5 separate regions of the Homo sapiens genome follow, and regions 2, 3, 4 and 5 are each linked to region 1. The links come from fine-mapping of genetic effects on gene expression. A gene starts in region 1. Each other region holds a variant in brackets. All regions are shown on one strand. Distances are between the middles of the regions. Region 1 holds the start of PITRM1 (pitrilysin metallopeptidase 1). Region 2 overlaps PITRM1 (pitrilysin metallopeptidase 1). Region 3 holds the start of SNORD142 (small nucleolar RNA, C/D box 142). Region 4 holds the start of PITRM1-AS1 (PITRM1 antisense RNA 1). Region 5 overlaps LINC02660 (long intergenic non-protein coding RNA 2660).

Region 1 (4,120 bases):
CCTCCCATTTTATTTCTAAGTAAGACAGCTATAAGGATTTTAAAAAGCCACATACTTTTCTCACAATTTGTCCACAAGGAAATTCCTTGTGGACCAAGGACAGGCAGAACTCAAAGTCATCCTCCTGAGGCTCACGGGTGAGACAAACGCATATCTGATCACTTCCTCTGCCCCATTGTTTCACTGAGTCAGACTAAGGCATCAGTGACTGCTTCTCTACCCTCCTCTCAAATATAAGTTGTGTGTTCAGTGAAAGTCTAATCAGAGACTCAAAATAATGCAACCATTTCCTTCTTATCTACCTACAACCTGGAAGCCCCCACTTGGAGTTGCCCTGCCATTTCGGACCCAACCAATCTACATTTTACATATATTGGTGGATGTCTCATATCTCCCTAAAATGTATAAAAGCAAGTTGTGGCCAGGCGCGGTGGCTCACGCCTGTAATCCCAATACTTTGGGAGGCGGAGGCGGGCAAATCACGAGGTCAGGAGTTCGAGACCAGCCTGACCAATATGGTGAAACCCCGTCTCTACTAAAAATACAAAAAAAAAAAAAATTAGCTGGGCATAGTGGTGGGTGCCTGTAATCCCAGCTACTCGGGAAGCTGAAGCAGGAGACTCGCTTGAGCCCGGGAGGCTGAGGTTGCACTGAGCCAAGATTGCGCCACTGCAATCCAGCCAGGGCGACAGAGTGAGACACGGTATTAAAAAAAAAAAAAAAAAAAAGTTGTGCCACGACCATGTTGGCCACATGTCATCTGGACCTCCTGGGGCTGTGTCATGGGCATGCCCTTAACCTTGGCAAAATTAACTTTCTAAATTGATTGAGACCTAGATCGGATATTTTGTGTGCACACACCCAAATTCTCCCTAGAAGACGGGTGATGCGCAGAGCGTGTTTGTGTCTGTCGCTCCTATTATTGCCTGTGTTCTGGTTCCTTTGGGCTCTTCAATAAGGAGGTACGTGTTTACCTGCAGCCCAGAACTGGCTGCCCTATGGAGAGTTTAGGGTAGACACGTTGGGACTTTTTCCCACAGTATTACCTTCCACATTGCTTCCAAAGTTTTAGCTTGTTCAAGCCGACTGCAGCCATCTACTTACCATTTAATTTTTAATTTTTTTTTTCAGAGCCCATTAGGAGACAGAGGGAGATTTGAGCCTGTTTGTATTCGTGATACAAGGGGAAAAAAAGAGGGAGAAGGTGAAGGGAGGAAGGAAGAGAGGCTCTGAGAAACCCGGAAGGTCAGACTTGGTGCGGACTTCCTCCAAGGGCTACCCCACCCTCTCCAAGCGTGGCTAATCCCAGGGCCCCTTCTGGCCCACAGTGCAGAACCACCCACTCCTACGGGGGCCTCCTTCAGCCTCTCTGGGGGTTCCCAGAAGGGCCCTTGGGCACTTGGGCAATGTCAGGGGGCTCAGGTGCATCTTCCTAGACACGAAACGAAGAGGAAAGCGGAGGCAGCAGCGGGGGCCACAGGCTCCCATGCAGCAGCTCGGAGCTGTGCTGTGCTTCGCTGGCGGCCATCCGTGATACGTGTGACACCGTGGGGCCCTGGCCCTGGGACCTGCCATGCAGCCTTGAGATCTCATCCAAGAAGCCCCCAGACCCCAAGGTTCAGGCCTGGCGGGGCAGCAGAACGCCTTTGGAGCTCAGCTCAGCCCTACAAACAGGACCAACGCCCACACCAAGGCCAGAGAGGGCTACCAAGTTTCACCTGGCCCAGCTTCCGGCAGCCCCCAACCAGGCCACTACCCTCACCTGAACACCGCGGTCCATCACCAAGCCCCACCCACTTCTGCCAGCCCTGCCCCCACAAGGACCCACCTCTCGCATGCAAGCCCCGCCCCCAAGGCCCAGCTCACCTGCAGCCCCGCCCCACCAGGCTCCACCCCATCGCCTGCAAGCCCCATCCCCAAGGCCCAGCTCACTTGCATCCCCGCCCACTAGGCTCCACCCTGTCACCTGCAAGCCCCGCCCCCAAGGCTCAGCTCACTTGCAATCCCCTCTCCCACTGGTCTCCACTCCTCACCTGCAAAGAGCCACCCCTCGCTAAGCCCCTCCCATCACTTGCACAGCCCCACCCAACACAGCACGCCATTCCAGGAGCCCCTCTTTTCACCAGCGCAGCCCCGCCCTTCACCAGGCCCCACTTCATCTGCATACACACGCCTCTCGCCACGCCCCACTTCTCGCCTGCCCACTTCCCCCTCCTATCATCTGTCCACATCCTGCTGCTGGCCGAACCCCGCCCCTTTCGGCAAGACGGCCCCGCCCCTTTCTACCCGTACCACGCCCCTCGCCTTGCCCGCCTCCTTCGGCACGTCGGCCCCGCCCCTCCCGCCCATCTCCGTCCGCACCGCCCTCCCGCCCGTCCCAGAGCAGTGGAGGCCTACCCTTTTCACCTACAGCCTATCGCAGAGGACGTCGCTGTTCGCGTTGACCAATAGGAGTGGTAGCTGTCACGGCAAGCCCCGCCCCGCGCCCTGCGTCGGGTTAAGAGGGGGTTCCTCGCCAGCCAGGTGCTCGTCATGCGCAATGTGGCGCTGCGGCGGGCGGCAGGGCCTGTGTGTGCTGAGGCGGCTGAGCGGCGGGTGAGACGCTGCGACGGGAGGCGCTCGGCGCGCTGGTACCCGGGAGGGGAGGGTCCAGGGCAGGCCGGAGGCGTAGGGGTCCTCGTCCCTGCGCCCGGGGCTGGCAGCTCCCCAAGCTGTGGGCGTCCCGCACCCCGAGCCCTTCCTGGAGCTCCCGCATCCGAGGCTCCGAGGCCGGAGGACCTCGGAGCTCCTTCCTACTCCCAGGGGCGATGCCCCGGGCTGGGGGCCGGGCCTGCCCGCGGCGCTCCCGGCGGGGCCCTCCATTAGCGTGGGCTTTAACGGGGGTAGTAAATGGGGTCGGCATTTGCGGTTCTCGCTGACAGCTTTGCTCCTAGTTCATTTTTGTTGGGAGGCCGAGTCCTTAAGAGACCCGAGGCGCCCACAGCCCATACTTAAAGTCTCGCTGTGTTCAGAGAACTGACGCCTCCCGGAATTGAACTGTTTTGTTTTTTTAATGACTCAATTTATGGGGAAAAAAATGACGAAGCAGTTTAGTGTTCATGGTAATCCACGAGCCCGTGTTTAATATAAGGTAATAGTTCAGCGCTGCCGGCCCAGGCCGGGAGGCACGGGGCGTCCGTGGCATGAGTTCGGCCTGGCCTTACCGCTCAGGAGTTTCCTATCATGTCCTTGATAAGTAACTTCTTAAAACGCTTCTGTCCCATAATTCTGAAATTTGCTAAATCAGTAAGCAAATGTTGGTTATAGCATATCTTCATAATATTGCCAGTGACTGAATAGGTTTTTTCTTCCTGTACATATTATCTTTAAAATAAATATTTCGGTGGGATACATTAATGTAGAAAATCCCATACGACATATAATACAATTGGAGAGAATAATAATTACGTGTTTTTTAAGAGCAGGGATCTTGCTCTGTTTCCCAGGCTGGTTTGATCCCCCTCCTCAGCCTCTCGCATTGCGGGGTTACAGGTGTGAGCCATCTCATTCAGGTGAGAATAATTATTAGAAATAGGTTGGGCGCGGTGGCTCACACCTGTAATCCCAGCATGTTGGGAGGCCAAGGCGGGCAGACCACTTGAGGTCAGGAGTTCAAGACCAGCCTGGCCGACATGGTGAAACTGTCTCTACTAAAAATACAAAAATTAGCTGGGCGTAGTAGTGAGCACTTGTAGTCCCAGCCACTCAGGAGGCTGAGACAGAATTGCTTGAACCCGGGAGGTGGAGGTTGCAGTGAGTCGAGATTGCACCGCTGCACTCCAGCCTGGGCAACAGAGTGAGATCTGTCTCAAAAAAGAAAATTAGTGTCCCTGTGACCAAGTTGAAGATTCCCCTAACTGCTCGTAACTCTCTCCCTCCCTCTTAGATTATCACGGTCATAACATACAGAAATGTCCTTGCTTTTTTTTTTTTTAATATTTTACCATTTTTATGCGTTCTGACAATGTCTTGTTACCTATTTGAATAATACCTGTTTAGGATAATACTGTATCATGTGTATCTTTTGTTTCACGTTATGTGACCCATATCTTTGTTACATGCCACTGTAGGCCCTTATATT
Region 2 (4,120 bases), 28 kb after region 1:
GAGTGCTTGGTAAAGGTTATAGAATTTATTGTAAATGTCAAGTGTTCTAACAAACTAAGAAAATATTTTAAGCCTATTAAAAGTTGTAGGAGATGGGGAAGAAAGCAGGCTAATTTTGTGCTAGAAGTGCAAATAGATTGAGGGCAAGTAGTTATATTGCTTCCAAAAGCACATGGTCCGTAACTGAGGTATCTGTAAAGGTGAGCTTGCTGAAGACCAGAGTAAAAGTGCAGTTTCTTATAAAATTATGTGATGCTTTGAGGAAACATCTGGCAGCTCAGTCCTATACCTTCAGTTGGCCTTATGCCCTCAGATGTGTGAGCATGAATAAAGTTTAAAAATGATTGTTTATTTTCAGCATCTTATTGTCAGTGACATTGATGTATTCATCAGTACTTAACAAGAAAATGTTTGCTGAAGTCACTTGTCCTTCTTCACACAGAGTCCTGATGCCTTTCCCCAGTCATGTCCTGAGAATCCCTGGCAGATTCTACAGGGCGGTCTGTGGGTGGCCAGAGGTGAAGCCTGGCGATCAGGGTCTCTTGGCATTGGGCTCAGGCAGGCCTGGCTTCTGGTGCCGCCGGGTCAGCACTCACACTCGCTCCCAGGCGGTCCTGGGCAGCTGACCCACTTGCGTCTTCTGCTTCCTCCTCCATAAAACCTTCCTTTGCAGGTTTATCGTAAGGAATAAAAGAAAGAATATCTGCAAGGCAGCATACATGCCTGGGATATAGTTAGTATTAATATAATGGTACCTGCTGTTACTTTAACTAGAATAAGTTCAGGATTTACAGCTGAAAGGAAAAAATATACACTCTGTCAATATACTGTAGAGTTCAAGTAGCTTTTATATGATAGTAGTATTTGCAATTCTGTGGAATTTGGAAGAGTTCTATTTTCATGTAACTTTGAGAGCATGGTATTTTTTTGCAGTTTATAATGTTCTGCTTTAACAACCAGTTCACATTTTCAAATTGATGACTTCTGGACAGTAATTTTAAAAGTTGTCAGTGTTTTGATAGTGTAATTCCGAAGGCACGGTTAGCAGATCTTAATAGTCTCTGTATTTTCTTTGCTCTTCAGAAGAACTAGAGTTTAGAGTCACAGGCTCCGCGTATGGACGGCTTCATTAGCTGCCACATTGAACTGTGCGGAAATCTCTTGATAACCTGAAGCACTGAAGAGCAGGGAGGCGGCCGTGGCATTTCCACATTTGGCTGCTGTTTAACACTCTGAACAGTATTTTCTATAAAAACAACATTATTGAGTTATACAAAATGTGATGAATTACTAAAACTGTTTTTTCTAACAGTGGTTTTATGTATACATAATTTTTCAAACAGGTGTTCAGTGAATGCGACTCCTCAGCAGATGCCTCAGACAGAAAAAGCGGTCGAAGACTTCCTTAGAAGCATCGGTCGGAGTAAAAAGGAACGGAGGCCTGTGCGCCCACACACGGTCGAGGTATGCACTGGTGGTGCTGGCGCCCGGTGAGCGCCTGGTGGGTGCCAGAGCAGCTCTCATGTTTTACACGCATTAACTCAATTCTCAGAGCAGTCCAGCATGTGGGGGTTCATATCCCCCGTACGCAGATGAAGAAACTGAGGTTCAGGAGGATTAAGTATCTTGTGCAGTGTTGGGCCAGTTAAGTGAGTTCAGACCCTGCGGTGTGGCCTTAGATCCCGCGCTCACTTCTGTGCCTTGCAGTGAGTAGTCTGATAGGAAAACAGACTTTGGCTGGAATACGCTGGCAGAGGAATGGCCCAAACCGTAGCCTGAAGGCTGTTCACTGCTGTTTCTTTGACTCATGAATCCATGGATTTGACATGGAACAGTGATGTCGGTGATAACTAACTTAGTAAATTTGATTAACTTAGAGAGTTGTAGTCTAGTTCATGGATGTCAGTAGAGAAGCCGTGCTGCTCCGTGGAGGAGGTTGACGCTCATGTCTTCTCCGTTGGTGTCTGCGTATCCCTGGTTCAATTCTGGATGTGGTCTCTCTGTTGGCCCCTGGGAGTGGAGCCTTTGGGAGGTGGCCTCCTGCTGCTCCAGGCCCCTCTGCCTGCAACCCTTTCACCTTAAATGTCCTCTTGATTTGACAGATTAATGACAAGAAAGTGCAGAAAGAAAGGTTAAAATATTTTCTTTGTACCATATAACAAGGCTACCTTTTCCTTGACTGTCTGAAAATTTATTTTAA[T/A]ATTTTCTTAATTTCTTTTACTCACTTTATTTCTTTTTTTAGTTTTTGTTATTTTGAGACAGGGTCTGTCTCTGGCACTCGGGCTGGAGTGCAGTGGTGCCATTACAACTAGCTGTAGCCGTGACCTCCTGGGCTCAAGTGATCCTCCAATCTCAGCCTCCCAAGTAGCTGGGGCTACAGGTGTGCACCACCATGCCCAGCTAATTTTTAAAAATTTTTTGTTGAGATGGGAGCTCACTACATTGCCCAGGCTGGTCTCAGACTCCTGGACCCAAGCAATCCTCCCACCTCAGCCTCCAAAGTGCTGGCATTATAGGCATGAGCCACTCTGCCCAGCCTATTTTTATTTTTTTTAAGCGTTTATTATTTAAAACACTTACACCTGCCCTAACACTTGTTATTAGCTGTGTGAATTTTATAAACTCTGTTACTTCTTATATATTTCAAGTGAGTTCTGGATTTTTCTCTTTTCTCTTGGAAACTTGATTTTCAGAAACCTGTGCCCAGCAGCTCTGGTGGAGATGCCCACGTTCCCCATGGCTCCCAGGTCATTAGGAAGCTGGTCATGGTAAGAACCACAGCCCATCCGGGTTGCCAGCGGGTGGGTGCTTCCCTGCATGGCTGTGTCTGCCACTGATGTTCGAATGTTCCTCCGTCCGCCTGTCTGTGGGGCTGGCGTGTCCCTAGAGTTGCGAGTTCAGTGCATCCTTTGTCACTGCCACCCTGAGCCTTTTCTCTCTCAGACAGTACTGAGTGAAGGCCCTGGTGGGGGTGTGTCCTCCTGTGCCGAGGAGGGCCCTGGTATGGGGTGCGTCTTCCCTGTGCCCAGGAAGAGGGCTACTGCTCTGGGTGGTCTCCTCCCGGGCAACTCACCCTTCTTTGAACGTAGCTCCCGAGCTGAGTCGATGCCAGTGGAGCGGTCTGACAGATCCTTTCCGCGACTCAGCCTGGTGCTGATGCTGTTTGGTTTGGTTCCTTGTGGAGTAGAGTGATTTAACACATTCCTATGATATAATATGATATGAAATATAAATATGTAACTGTGATATAAACGGCGTAGAATGAAATGTTTTTAATTGAACAGTATACGTTAAGGCATCACGTCAAGATTGGAGGACTTCATGTCAGTTTTACAGTGAGAAATTGTGTGGAGTGACGGAACTGCAGTGCCTTGCTCTCGCGCCCCAGCACCTGGCTGCAGAGTGTCACGGAGATGGGACCCCTGAGATGGCTCCAGTCCCAGTGCCGTGGGCAGTGCGTGGGAGCACAGCCGCCTCTGACCCCTGAGTGGGTCCAGTCCCAGTGCCGTGGGCGGTGCATGGCAGCACAGCCGCCTCTGACCATACCGTGTCCCTCAGGAACCCACCTTCAAGCCCTGGCAGATGAAGACTCACTTCCTGATGCCCTTCCCGGTGAATTACGTGGGTGAATGCATCCGAACTGTCCCCTACACGGACCCAGATCATGCCAGGTAGGAGGGTGTAGGTCGGGACCTCTCAGGCCTGAGCCTTACGGAAGAGCTTGTCAAGGCTGTTCGAGTTCACAGGGCGTGTTTTAGCACAGGAAAAGTCTGTGCTGACTCTGAGTGTTGGACCTGGGGCTGTGTGAGTCTACGAGTGCTCCTCTTTAACCAGCAGTCTTTGTGAACAGAGACCCAGTTTTAGAGCCAGTCATTTTTGTAAACAATTTCTATTATTGAGGAGTCCTATGAACAATACAGATACCTATGACCTTAAACACAGACTGCTTTCAACATGCCCCATGTACTCACCTCATCTCTAGGTAAAAATCGAATGAATTTAGGCTGAGATTTCTGATAAACATGGTAGGTTAAGCCTTCATGAGGACAGATGCGTGAATGACAGCAAAGGCAGATCAAGACACGAAGCTACAAGGGAAAGAGTGGGAGGTGACCCGGAG
Region 3 (4,104 bases), 39 kb after region 1:
CAAATGAAACCATTGTTTAAAATTATTCCCGAAGACCCAGTGGTGGAGTCTCGCTCTGTCGCCAGGCTTGAGTACAGTGGTGCAATCTCAGCTCACTGCAACCTCTGCCTCCCGGGTTCAAGCGATTTCTCCTGCCTCAGCCTCCTGAGTAGCTGGGACTACAGGTGTGCATCACCATGCCTGGCTCATTTTTGTATTTTTAGTAGAGATGGGGTTTCACCATATGAGCCAGGTTGGTCTCGATCTCTTGACCTTGTGATCCACCTGTCTCGGCCTCCCACAGTGCTGGGATTATAGGCATGAGCCACCGCGCCCAGCCAAGACCTAGTATTTTTTTAACTGAGCTTCAGAAAAGCCAGTTCCTCAAACCCCTGAATGAGTTGCCGACAGCAACAGCAATGGCCATTCCCCTGTCCCGTACTCACATTGGGGTCTTATTGCCTCAGGGAACCCAGCCAACTTACTCAAAATCCGTTTGCTTCTTCAGCTCTGCCACAGGTTGAAAAATAACGTTTCTTTTGCTTATTCCCAGCACACAAATGGAATCATCGGTGGTAAATTTTTTTCCTATAAAAGATTTTAAAAAAGATTAATAACACCCTGTCAACATGGGCAGGTGGGGGAGCAGAATCACGGGGCGAGATGAGAACTGAGATTCCTCAGAACCATGCTGAACCCGGCCTGGAAGCCCAGTGAGACTGAGAACAGCCGCGCAGTGGGGCCAGCACCTGGCCTCGTGCAGCTCTGCTCCTGTGGGACTGCCCCGAGGGCTTCCTGGAAAGCAGCTTTTGTTTTTTCCTCCCAGTGGAGAGAATTTTTCACTAAATAGTGGAATAGGGAAATTAGCTTAAATTACAGGACACTAATTTATGCTCACACATACACACACTGAGAGGCAAAAAGCATCCATAGCTAAATTAGCAAAAGAAAATCGCTGTAGAAAGAATCAAAGCCAAAGTCAGTTCTTCAAAAAGACAAACCCATTGAAACTATTCACATCACTGGTTTTTATAGACTGTCATTTTTCTAAGTTGGACACTGGCAGTGATAGTGGTTTGCCGGAATAAAAGCACACATCTGCTATGACTGATTAAGAAAGCTGAGGGGGGTGGGGGTGAGAAAGATGCTGGCACAAAGAGCCACTCAGGAATGAGTGGGGAACAGCCATGTTGGAGCCATTAACAAGAGTATTATAAAAAAGTCATGTTTCTTGAAACTTCAGTTTAAAGATTTCTTAGAATATGTAACTTACAGAACTGATTTAAGGAAGAACATGCACAGTTCTACGAACATGCAGTTCTACAAACATGAACAATTCATTCAGCAGTCAGATCTTCCTCAAAACTGGAAGTTTTGATGGATAGTCACAAGGAGGTTGTCCTAGCAAACATTCAAAAAATAGAAGGCCCCACTTAAACTGTGAGGGGAAATTGCTGGCCAACGTTCAGGATCTCTAGAGCAAAAAGCCTGCACAAAAGAACTGCAGACTGCATCTAGCAGTGATAAAAGAGAACATGTCATACCCAAGCTGATCTTATCCCAGGAATCCAAGGTTGGTTAAATAGCAACACTCAGAGATCAGGAGTAAAACATCACGTGCAGCTCAGTACTGAACTGAAGAAGGAACCAGCACCCTACTTCTCCCCGATAGGACAGCATTTTCACCAAGGCAGGACGGCCTGCATCACGAGGCTGTGGCCTCCCTCCCCAGACCCCTTACCTCTGCCCCGGGCCTCCTTGAGTTTTGCAGTGATCCACTCCATAGCTCTGGCAGAGATTTTGGTTCCAAAGTTTCTATCAAATGGAGAGGGTGCCCCACCCTGTTGGTGGTTAGAGTTATATGAAATACCAGTTATACAGTAACACTTTGCTGTTAAATAGAAATGACAATTTCTATTTTGCAGAATTCATGTTTTTATTTCTAGGTCCTTATAGTTGGAACAGAACAAAACCTGTGATTCCCGTAGCCTGAACTTGGCCTGTTAAGAAAAAGTATCAAGTGTTCCCCCCGCTCAGTAAGATGAGGATTTTAATAAACCGAACAAGTCAACTAACAATCTTCATTATTTTAAAATCTTAAATCAGGATTTCATGAACTCATCTGA[G/A]CTGGGGATGGGTCACAGCTTTAATCTGATAACCGTTGTGGATTCTTTAAGAAGATCACACATATGCCTACTATTTCATCATCATTGCAGGGGATTCATGGGCTCTGGCTTAAAAGTATAAGAATAGGAGGTGGTGAGGAAGGAGTGTGTGCAAGTTAGGAGGCCTGGACCCTGTGTCCCAGGCTCAGCTCATAACACGTGTGTGCCTGTGTGCAGCTCATTCCAGGTCATTCTGACTTGGGGTGTCAAGTATACTACATGTCTGATAATCCATTTTAAATCTTAGGGAAGCTCCAGTTTTTAACTTGATGAAGTGTTTAATTTGAATAAGCATTTCCAAGTAATGGGGGTATCACTGTTTTCATGAAAGCTGACAGTTCCCTTAAAATCCCCATTACTCAAACCTCACCAACAAAAGAATCCTAAAGCTGGTGATGTTTGGCATCACTTAAAAGTTCAGATGTTTTGGCTGGGCACAGTGGCTCAGGCCTGTATTCCCACCACTTTGGGAGGCTGAGGTGGGTGAATCATCTGAGGTCAGGAGTTTGAGACCAGCCTGGCCAACGTGGTGAAACCCCATCTCTACTAAAAATACAAAAATTAGCTGGGTGTGGTGGTGGGTGCCTATACTGCCATCTCCTCGGGAGGCTGATGCAGGAGAATCACTTGAACCTGGAAGGTGGAGGTTGCAGTGAGCCAAGCTTGTACCACTGCACTCCAGCCTGGGCAACAGAGCAAGACTCTGTCTCAAAAAGTTCAGATGTTTTTTATCATCTTGGAATTTACTTATACATTTTTCCCCACAATGGCTAAAATAAGACACTAATCTTTTAAAAGTCACATGACAGGGGCTTTGTGGCCCCTCATGCAGTCTCGGGCCTACCTGCTGCATGTGACCCAGCACGTTCTTCCTGCAGTCAAACACGCCTTTGCCCTCTTCTGAATACAGCTGGTAAATGAAGTCGGTGGTGTAGTTTTCACTGCAGCTCTCATTTCTGAAACGAGCGAGAAGGAGTCACTTTGTTTAGCGTGCAGTGGGCACGTGGCTCCCTGCTTGGGGAGATGGCCCTGGGAGGCTGGACTCCCGCATCCCCCAACCCTATGGTGATTCTACATCAACACCAGTCCCTCCAGTTCACGGTTTTGCTTTCTGCAGTTTGTTACCCATGGTCCAGTGGTCAACTGAGGCCCACAAATATTAAATGGAAAATTCCAGAAATAAATATGTAAGTTTTAAATTGCACACCATTCTGAGTAGCGTGATGAAATCTCGTGCTCTCTTGCTGTCCCACCCAGAACGTCAATCATCCCTGTGCCCTGCATCTCCATGCTGTCTGTGCCTCCTGCCCGAGTCACTCAGTAGCCACCTTGGTTATCAGATGGAAGCAACCTCGTGTATACAGGGGGCGGGTACTATCCCCAGGTTCAGACACCCACTGCAGTCTTGGGACACAGTCCCTGAGGCTAAGAGGGATGACTGTATTTCCTTCTTTCTTCATAAACATCAGGTGCTAATTAGGGAAATGATTGCAAGATATCAAAGAATAAGAGACTATAAAGCAAAAATATTAGTTGTCTAAATGCAGGCAAGCCTTTAGAGCAATGCACCACAGCTGTCTTCTGCACCTGCTCAGTGTGTGTAGTGCACTCTAGCGGCAAAGAAATGACCACTCATCCAGCCCAAGTCACAGACTAGAATCTAAGAACCAGGGTGTGGCGGTGAGGGTAAGATCAGCCCCTGGTCTCTCTCTCTCACCTGAGCACAAGGCCTCTCTGGATGGTGGTCTTCATTTTCTCCGTCAGGTGCTCCACGTTGGACTGGAAGAGAGTATTTTGTTAATCAGACAATAAACTTCTACTAAGTACCTACTGTGTGCCAGGCACTGCAGGCTGGGAAGTGCCAACCAAGTGTGGCAGTGAGCGTGGCCAAGGAGGCTGCAGCTCTCGCGGCTTGGGTCTTGGGGAGCCTCCTCCCAGATAGGGAGGACACGTCTGCAGC
Region 4 (4,120 bases), 33 kb after region 1:
CCCACACGAGATGGTCGTGACTTCTCCCACCACAGCCCCTGGGAACACGCCCACTCCTTCCTTGATTTCCCACCTGGCCTATTTGACTCCCTTCATCCACTTTAGGAAAAGGCCTGTCTGTGGAAGCGGCGACCTGGGGCTGATCTCACCACGGGCGTCTTCAAGGAGCCTGTGTCTGTGCTGCAGACCCTCCCATCATTGTCTGCCCCGCCTTCTGTCGGAGGTGGATGTGTTCTAGAATCAGCTTGAATGTGATGTTACCGTTCACAGTGGAAGGCAGAGGAAATTGGCCCTGTTCCTAGAAATGTGCTTTATCAGAGAGTGTGTGTTTTCTTAAGGGATTCTTATAAAACTCACTTCAGTTTCCTTTCTTTCCATATTCTGATGTGAGACATTTAAATAAATGTTCATTTGCTCATTTGCCTTTATAATAGAAATAACCTCTTTCTACTTCACGAGATTTTAAAAATGCCACATGTGCATTGGAACAAGTTAAGCAGTGTGGTGCTGGAAGTGTTAAGATTCCCTCCCCACCACCTCTCCCTTCAACCCTGTAATCTAAGCCAACTGTTTGAAAATTGTGCTTCCTTGTGCTTTTTAGTTTTGGTTAATTGAAAAGAAAATCTCATGCCTGTAAGCTCAGCACTTTGAAGGCAGGAGGATCACTTGAAGCCAGGTGTTTGAGACCAGCCTGGGCAACAAAGCTAGACCCTGCCTCTACAAAAACTGTAAAAATAGTCAGGCGTGGTGGCACACACCTGTAGGCCCAGCTACTCAGGAGGCTGTTGTGGGAGGATCCCTTGAGCCCAGGAGTTCAAAGCTGCAGTGAGCTGTGATTGCACTAATGCACTCCAGCCTGGCGACAGAGCGAGACCCCATCTCTTAAAAAACAAGACCAAAATATGGGACCATAATTTATGCAGCATTATTTTACAACTCGATTTTCATTTTCACTTAATCCAACAATTACTTCATTGTCTATGCTTTTTTATCAGCCACGGTATTAACTTGCATTTTTTAATCATTTCAGTCTTAAAATCCTTGCACGTTTGATGACTGCCAAATTCTTGCATACAGAAATTCGAGAAAAAGGCGGTGCTTATGGTGGAGGCGCAAAACTCAGCCACAATGGGATTTTCACCCTTTACTCTTACAGGTGAGTTTTGCTCTAGTTCACACATTGGGATGCACACGTCGTTTTAGTCTTCTACTCATGATTATCAGTGTCATTTTCTTCTACTGCAGTGAATTTTAGACAAAAGTTGTTCTGTGTGCTTCTTTTCACTCCTTGGGCACTTAGCCACACCCAGCAATGTCCTTTCTGGCGCGAGGATTAGGGCCAGCAGCCGAAACAGGAAGCATTCTGCCTTCAGTAAACCCTGGCTTCAGCCAGCATATTTTGGCAGAACACGGTAGTGCCTCCATCCGTGGGTTTGCCTTCCATGGTTTATTACCCACAGTCCCCCTCGGTCTGAAAATATTAAATGGAAAATTCCAGACATAAACACTTCCTAAGTTTTAAATTGTACACCATTCTTCTAAGCAGTGGGATGAAAGCTGACGCTGTCTACGGTACCTGCCTGTTGGTCACCCAGTAGCCGTCTAGGTATCAGATACGCTGTGGGTATCCAAGAGCTTCTGTTCACAGAACCCTTGTTTTACTTAATAGTAGCCCATCAGCGTAACTTTTATTACAGTATAATTGTTGTATTTTGTTAATATCTTGCTGCACCTAATCTATAAACTTTATCATAGGTATAGGAAAAAAACATAGTATCCATAGTGGCTGTCTGAGGTTGCAGCCCTGCCGTGGGGGTCCTGAAACACAGGCCCCAGGTGAGGGGGCTGATACAGCCTGAGAGCGTTCTTAGCTCATTTCAGTTGGAGGTGCCTGATGTGGATGCAGTTCTGTTAGCTTTCATAAACATAACACCGTTACTGTAAAGCAATATTCTTGATTTTCTATGGCTTTGCTGCCTAAGAGAACATGTATTCCAACAGTTTTTAAGAAGGAGCCAGCCGGCCGCAGTGGCAAGTGCCTGTGGTCCTAGCTACAGGAGGCTAAGGCGGGAGGATCCCTTGAGCCTGGGGAGGTTGAAACTGCAGTGAGCAGATTGCGCCACTGCACACCAGCCTGGGCGACAGTGAGACCCTGTCCCGTGGATGCATAGCTAGATTAGGTAGGTAGGCAGGCATGTAGGTAGATACGTAGGTAGCCATTGCCACTCTGATGAGTTCTCCCCCTTGCTGTGCTGGAAGCCATGCTTCTAGACAAGGATGGGGAAGCAGCTCACAGCCGCCCCTCTGCAGCTCAGGGTGAAGGGAGGGCTGGGCTCTTTGCATTTACACGAAGGGAAGTCTGGATTGGCCCCCTCAGGCTGATTCCTGTACTACCCTGGGTGTGTCTTCAGGGAGATGAAAGGAAAACCTTTGTTTGCTTAATTTTTCCATGTAAGT[C/G]TTTGTAATTTCCCTGTAATCCTGACCTGCCCCTACCCTCCACTGACTTTCCTCTCCTGATGAGGTCACAGAGAAGTGTATTTAAATAATCTAGGGAGGACTTTGTGCAGACAGACCTTGTCTAAGAGGGAGAACATGTTGAAAGGCTTATGTGATCAGATTTAAATTTCCATTGAGAGTAATTGAGCGATTTGTCAGTGGGCTGTTTGGACTAAATCAGATATAAAATAGAGCTGTTAACCCATAGAAGATGTTGAACTGTTAAGTCGACAGAGGTTTGTCATAAACTTGTCCACTGGTAAAATGCTTGCCCGTTTATTTCTCTGGGTTTCCTAGGGACCCAAATACAATAGAGACGCTCCAGTCTTTTGGGAAGGCTGTCGACTGGGCTAAGTCTGGAAAATTCACACAGCAAGACATCGACGAAGCCAAACTTTCTGTCTTCTCAACCGTAGATGCTCCTGTCGCTCCTTCAGACAAAGGTATTTTGAGTATAACAGTGAGAATCTCAACCCACAGCCTCACAGATGACGTTGCTGTTTTCCAAGTTCCCGGCATGCATGGGCAGGAGCACTAGCTTCTGGTGCCTCCATCCTTGCTTGTGATACGATTTCCACGTCTGACACCCTAAACACGCTTCCTGACATCCGGGCGAGAAGAGTGCATCCTGTCATTTGTTTTACTGACCTGAGACCCAGTGGGGCCAACCCATGGCAGTGTCCGGGCTCTTTAGGGTGGAAGGAGGACGTGGGCACGGCCCGGGCATGGCCACGTTACTCTCTGGAGCCGCTTTTGCTCACAGCATCATCAGCCTCACGCGGCGCTGACTGCATCCCTGCTGCAGAAGCAGGCGTGGGTAGGGGTCAGCGTGGCACGTGGGAGCTGGAGGTCGGGGTGTGATCTCTGGGTTGTTAGACACATCCCTGTGGTTGAAACATGCACGTGAAATGACAGTGAGATGCCTGTGTCCCCTCCGGGACATGAGTGCACAGCCCACAACGCGAGCTCCCGGGCAGCGGCTCCATCGTGCCTGTGGATTGTCTTCTAGGAATGGACCACTTCTTGTACGGCCTCTCGGATGAGATGAAGCAGGCCCACAGAGAGCAGCTCTTTGCTGTCAGCCACGACAAGCTCCTGGCCGTGAGCGATAGGTGAGTGGGGAGCGGGGGAGACAGCGTCTGGGACTGGAAGCCCTCGTGCTGACTCTAACAGCGCTCACGCAGAAGCCAGTCCTTGCTGACCACGCCTGCCTTCCTCTCAGATACCTCGGCACTGGGAAGAGCACACACGGCCTGGCCATCCTCGGACCCGAGAACCCGAAAATTGCCAAGGACCCATCCTGGATCATCCAATGAGCAGCCGTGGCGCTCGACTGCACAGGAGCCCGAGACAATACACCTCCGAGCTGAATATGAAAAGTCAGAAATGCTACTGCTTTTTCCAAGAATATTATGTCATTGAGTGTCGCCAAAGCCCTTGACTGGCGAGTCAAAAACTCAGATCTATCTTAAGAGTGACCAGGAAGAGGTTCATTGAAATAATCATGCATGAAGCGCCAAAGATGCACCATGTAGAATTTTCACTTTGTACTGGCAGGCTCGTTTTACCTCATTCTAGAATATTTAAGAATCTAAAAATAAAGGGCAACTCTGACTTAACCTCT
Region 5 (4,120 bases), 750 kb before region 1:
TTCACCATGTTAGCCAGGGTGGTCTCGATCTCCTGACCTCGTGATCCGCCTGCCTCGGCCTCCCAAAGTGCTGGGATTACAGGCGTGAGCCACTGCGCCTGGCCCAGACATGATTTTTAAAATGAGCCTTCTACTCTTTCTCACCCCTCCCTTTCTCCTTCTCCTGGTCCCAGCTCATTCCACCCAACAAGTTGACTTTCTATCAAACAGTCTGTCACTTGAAAGGAGGCAGGATTTCTATATTTACTTGGGAATCTACAGACTATAAAAAGCCCTTTATTTTGACTGGTAGCAAGCCATTTGCTATATTTATAATGCATGATTGCCATTTTTCTGCAGGTATTCTTTTCTCCATTTAGAGTAACATCCTTCAGAACTCCAGTGTCTTATCTTTGTGTCATCCAGAGCGCCACGTAGAGTGACTGTGAAGTCAACAGTTGGGTAAATTGCATTCATCAATTTTAAATGTCATTGTGATATATCTTTTCAATATGTGTAATAACATATAAAATACACATGGAATCTAGTTACAGTCAAGTTGACAGTCTCTCATGGGGACAATTTAAGTATTAAAAGCTATAAATATATATTTACTAGTCCTTTATTTTGCTGTTGTGTATTTTGGTAGTTTCTCTTACAATTCTCTTAATAACTGCTTTAGTCTCTGAGCATAATAAGTGTCATATATTTATTTATATATTTGTATTTTTTCATTGTAAACTCAGTTAAAACATAAAGGAATCAGGGCAAAAGCAAGACAAAACTTTTTCTGTTGAAATGCAGATAAGCAGATAACATAAACCCAGACCAAAATGCACCTTATATGCTATTATGTGCACAGTTAATGCTGCTTGCACGGGATGTGGAACAGCCAGGCACTGGGCCAGCTCTATGAAGATGGGTGGTTATCACCAGATATTGCTGGACTTAAAATAGTATAGTGTGTCTGTGTGTGTGTGCGTGCGTGTGTGTAAGTGTGCACATACAGGCTGAGGTATGTGTTTATTTTTCTGGAAAAATAATCAAGAAAAAGCAACAATTTTGGGGGAAGAATGTGATGAAGGGAAAAGTTTATTTTATAGCTGTCTAGTCTGCTTAAATGTTCTATGTGAAGGTCACTTATTGTTAACCATGAAAAAAAGTCAGTCCAAGTTATCTTGGTGCAATCAAAATCACACTTCTTTACACGCCTCTGTATTTTAAAATCAACTAAAATTGATGGTGTTTTGGGGGGTTTTGTTTTGAGACAGAGTCTTGCTCTGTCTCCCAGGGTGGAGTGCAGTGGCACCATCTTGGCTCATTGAAGCTTCTACCTCCTGGGTTCAAATGATTCTTCTGCCTCCGCCTCCCGAGTAGCTGGGACTACAAGCGAGTGCCACTACGCCTAGCTAATTTTTGTATTTTTAGTAGAGATGGGTTTTTGCCATGTTGGCCAGGCTGGTCTTGAACTCCTAACCTCAAGTGATCCTCTTGCCTTGGCCTCCTGAAGTGCTGGGATTTCAGGAGTGGGTCACCACACCCAGCCCTAAAAACAAGTTATTTTAAAATAACTAAGTTATGACCTATTTGGGGCTTTGATTAATAGATAAATATATGAATGTAGAGAATGTACTTAAATCTTACACATTCTTTTAACACCTTTCCTGTACTTTATAGGTTGGCATCGCTATTTCCACTGACTTGCTGAATATTCTGTAGCATGAAGTAGAGAGTTTCTTTGCAGATCTTCTATGCTGGTGCGGGATGTTCTACATTCTTCACCAGGTGC[G/A]GGCAGTGGGCAGGCCACCATGTGCTCTAAGCACCCAGCATAACTGAGCCAGCCCTGCTGCTGAAGGGAATCCCAGGAGACAAAAATCACCTGCTTTGGTTGCTGGCACCTTCATCACCCAGGAATTTTACAGTTAGTGTGCTAACTGCTCCGAAGCTTATCATCATCTTTACAGTCACCTACCACTTTACAGATGCGGGAAGGAAAATACGAGCTCAGACACACCGCCAGGTCAGGGAGGCGTCTTTGCTGACTGCCGTCAGAGGGCCCAGCTGCAGCTTTGCCAGGTGAATTTTCTTCTCACCCACAAGAATTTTAAAAAGCAAAGACGGAGATGCCCACATCTAGAAAAAGAGCTTGTTGACATGCACTCAGGGTTTTCGTGAGGAATGAATCGTGTTGGGAAATCCCTGCCTACTGGCCACCTTATCTATGCTCCCAGCACTGAAAACTCTGAGAATTTTCTTCCGCTGCCAATTCCAAGAATGTAGCACATTGCATCACGTCCATTCTCAAAACGAAGGCCCACCCGTGGGAATAATTTAGAATATGCTGCAATGGGAGGGGGGCGAGTTTGGGAGGGTAACGGTTTTGGGAAACTGTTATTTCTTTGAAAAAGATGATGTGATGTTTCAGGCAATTTTGGCAATGCATTACTATTTCAAATCTCTTTCCACCTAAATGTGCCAATGGTGCCTCAGACATATTAATTCTGGAGATCTTCTTTGTTAAAAGGAAGGTAAGCCATCCTATCTCGTTACCAAAACCACAAAGTTTTGGGATAAAAGGAGTGATGTAAAACAGCCCCAATGCCTCCTCTCCTAACAGCAGGGGTCATATCCACCTCCTCGTTATGATCGCTTTAAAATTACAGAATTCATGCAAAGTGCACAGAACAGCAGGTGGCCAATGCCTCTTTGTCTACCACAAAGAACAACACCAACAGTAACAGCCTCTTAGTGGTATGATCTGAGATTTGAAAGAGCTTGGGAAAAAAGACAGTTGTGGAGGGAATTGTGGATGATTCAAAGTGTCTTGCTCTACCACATTCCTCTCCATGTATCCATATTTATAATTATTCCGTGACACATTTCAGATGGTTTTCATTCATGAAGCTCTCTGCAATGTACACCACGTACGTAAGAATTATAAAGGAAGGAGAAGAACTCAGACTGGAGAGTATATATACATATATAATAAGATATATATGGCCAAGGCGGGCAGATCACAAGGTCAGGAGATCGAGACCATCCTGGCTAATATGGTGAAACCCTGTCTCTACTAAAAATACAAAAAAAAAAAAAAAATTAGCCAGGCATGGTGGCATTGCACCTGTAGTCCCAGCTACTCGGGAGGCTCAGGCAGGAGAATCACTTGAACCCGTGAGGTGGAGGTTTCAGTGAGTGGAGACCAGGTCAGTGCACTCCAGCCTGGGCAACAGAGTGAGACTCTGTCTCAAAAAAAAAAAGATATATAAAAATCATATATTTGTAATATATAATAATATAAAATAAGGAGATAAGTAATTCAAGTTGATAAAATGCATTTATTCCATTAAAAATATTATTATAATTAGGATTCAGTTTTTACTGATATCTCCATTGCTGGCACTAAAACAAACCTCTGGACCAGTATAAACTAATTCAGAATTATTTTTTGCTTGCTTCCTCAAAAGATGTCTTTTCCTCTTTCTGCATTGCAGCTGCCTGTCTCTGGGTTCCTGGCTCCTGTGTGGTGACAACCCCTTCCATCCCATGCCTCCCGGTGAATCCCAGCCTCTCCAGTTCTTAGTCGGCCTGGCCCTCGAACTCTGACTGCAAGCCTGTGGCTCTCCTGGATTCCACATTCTAGGACCTGGAGTTTCTTCACATTTCACTGGCTGAACCCCACAGCACTCCGTCCCCTTTTCATTGCTATTGCTCTACTGTTTCCTGTGGTCCCTGATTATGTTGGGCCTCTCAGAGGCTTCGGGTAGACTTTTCTACTAGACTGTGAGGCTGTGGCCATCTGCATGTACAACACAGGAAGGCCTTGTGGTGATTACAGTCATGAAAACTTTTGTCCCAGCACATAGGCTGAAGGATAATTTGACATGAGGGTGAGATTTGACTCCATTTAATTGGACATTAAATGAAACACATAGCATGCCTTTATTTGGTATTTAAATTATATGTTAGAGAAAATACTTTACATGCTGGGTGCAGTGGCTGACGTCTGTAATCCCAGCACCTTGTGAGGCCAAGGCGGGTGGATCAGTTGAGGTCAGGAGTTTGAGACCAGCCTGGTCAACATGGTGAAACTCCGTCTCCAATAAAAATACAAAACTGTCCAGGTGTGGTGGCACACACTTGT

What was found.
Region 2: its variant is fine-mapped to the expression of PITRM1 in whole blood (TOPMed, PIP above 0.99).
Region 3: its variant is fine-mapped to the expression of PITRM1 in testis (GTEx, PIP 0.98).
Region 4: its variant is fine-mapped to the expression of PITRM1 in monocytes (TOPMed, PIP above 0.99). The same link has a PIP of 0.9 or more in CD4 T cells.
Region 5: its variant is fine-mapped to the expression of PITRM1 in subcutaneous fat (GTEx, PIP 0.94).

What each region holds. Positions count from the first base shown.
Region 1 is chr10:3,171,192-3,175,311 of GRCh38, reverse strand. PITRM1 (pitrilysin metallopeptidase 1) reads left to right here and starts at 2,530. Exons shown (of 27, transcript NM_014889.4): 1 at 2,530-2,595. The coding sequence starts at 2,540. RefSeq lists an enhancer at 980-1,517 and silencers at 1,716-1,875, 2,166-3,005.
Region 2 is chr10:3,142,940-3,147,059 of GRCh38, reverse strand. It overlaps PITRM1 (pitrilysin metallopeptidase 1), which reads left to right. Exons shown (of 27, transcript NM_014889.4): 21 at 1,344-1,464; 22 at 2,694-2,768; 23 at 3,559-3,671. PITRM1-AS1 (PITRM1 antisense RNA 1) reads right to left here. Exons shown (of 4, transcript NR_038284.1): 2 at 3,972-4,088; 3 at 3,074-3,204; 4 at 1-2,089. Among named protein-coding and RNA genes, the nearest start is that of PITRM1-AS1, 3.4 kb to the right of the region's middle. The variant T/A (reference allele first, on the strand shown) is at 2,201.
Region 3 is chr10:3,132,199-3,136,302 of GRCh38, reverse strand. PFKP (phosphofructokinase, platelet) reads right to left here. Exons shown (of 22, transcript NM_002627.5): 18 at 3,862-3,923; 19 at 2,989-3,100; 20 at 1,721-1,820; 21 at 465-567. SNORD142 (small nucleolar RNA, C/D box 142) reads right to left here and starts at 2,199; the gene lies at 2,005-2,199. RefSeq lists an enhancer at 1-320. The variant G/A (reference allele first, on the strand shown) is at 2,106.
Region 4 is chr10:3,137,723-3,141,842 of GRCh38, reverse strand. It overlaps PITRM1 (pitrilysin metallopeptidase 1), which reads left to right. Exons shown (of 27, transcript NM_014889.4): 24 at 1,031-1,156; 25 at 2,794-2,939; 26 at 3,506-3,608; 27 at 3,719-4,115. The coding sequence ends at 3,812. PITRM1-AS1 (PITRM1 antisense RNA 1) reads right to left here and starts at 242. Exons shown (of 4, transcript NR_038284.1): 1 at 74-242. RefSeq lists an enhancer at 1-502. The variant C/G (reference allele first, on the strand shown) is at 2,458.
Region 5 is chr10:3,925,022-3,929,141 of GRCh38, reverse strand. The region is part of intron 1 of LINC02660 (long intergenic non-protein coding RNA 2660); the gene reads right to left. Among named protein-coding and RNA genes, the nearest start is that of LINC02660, 15 kb to the right of the region's middle. The variant G/A (reference allele first, on the strand shown) is at 1,769.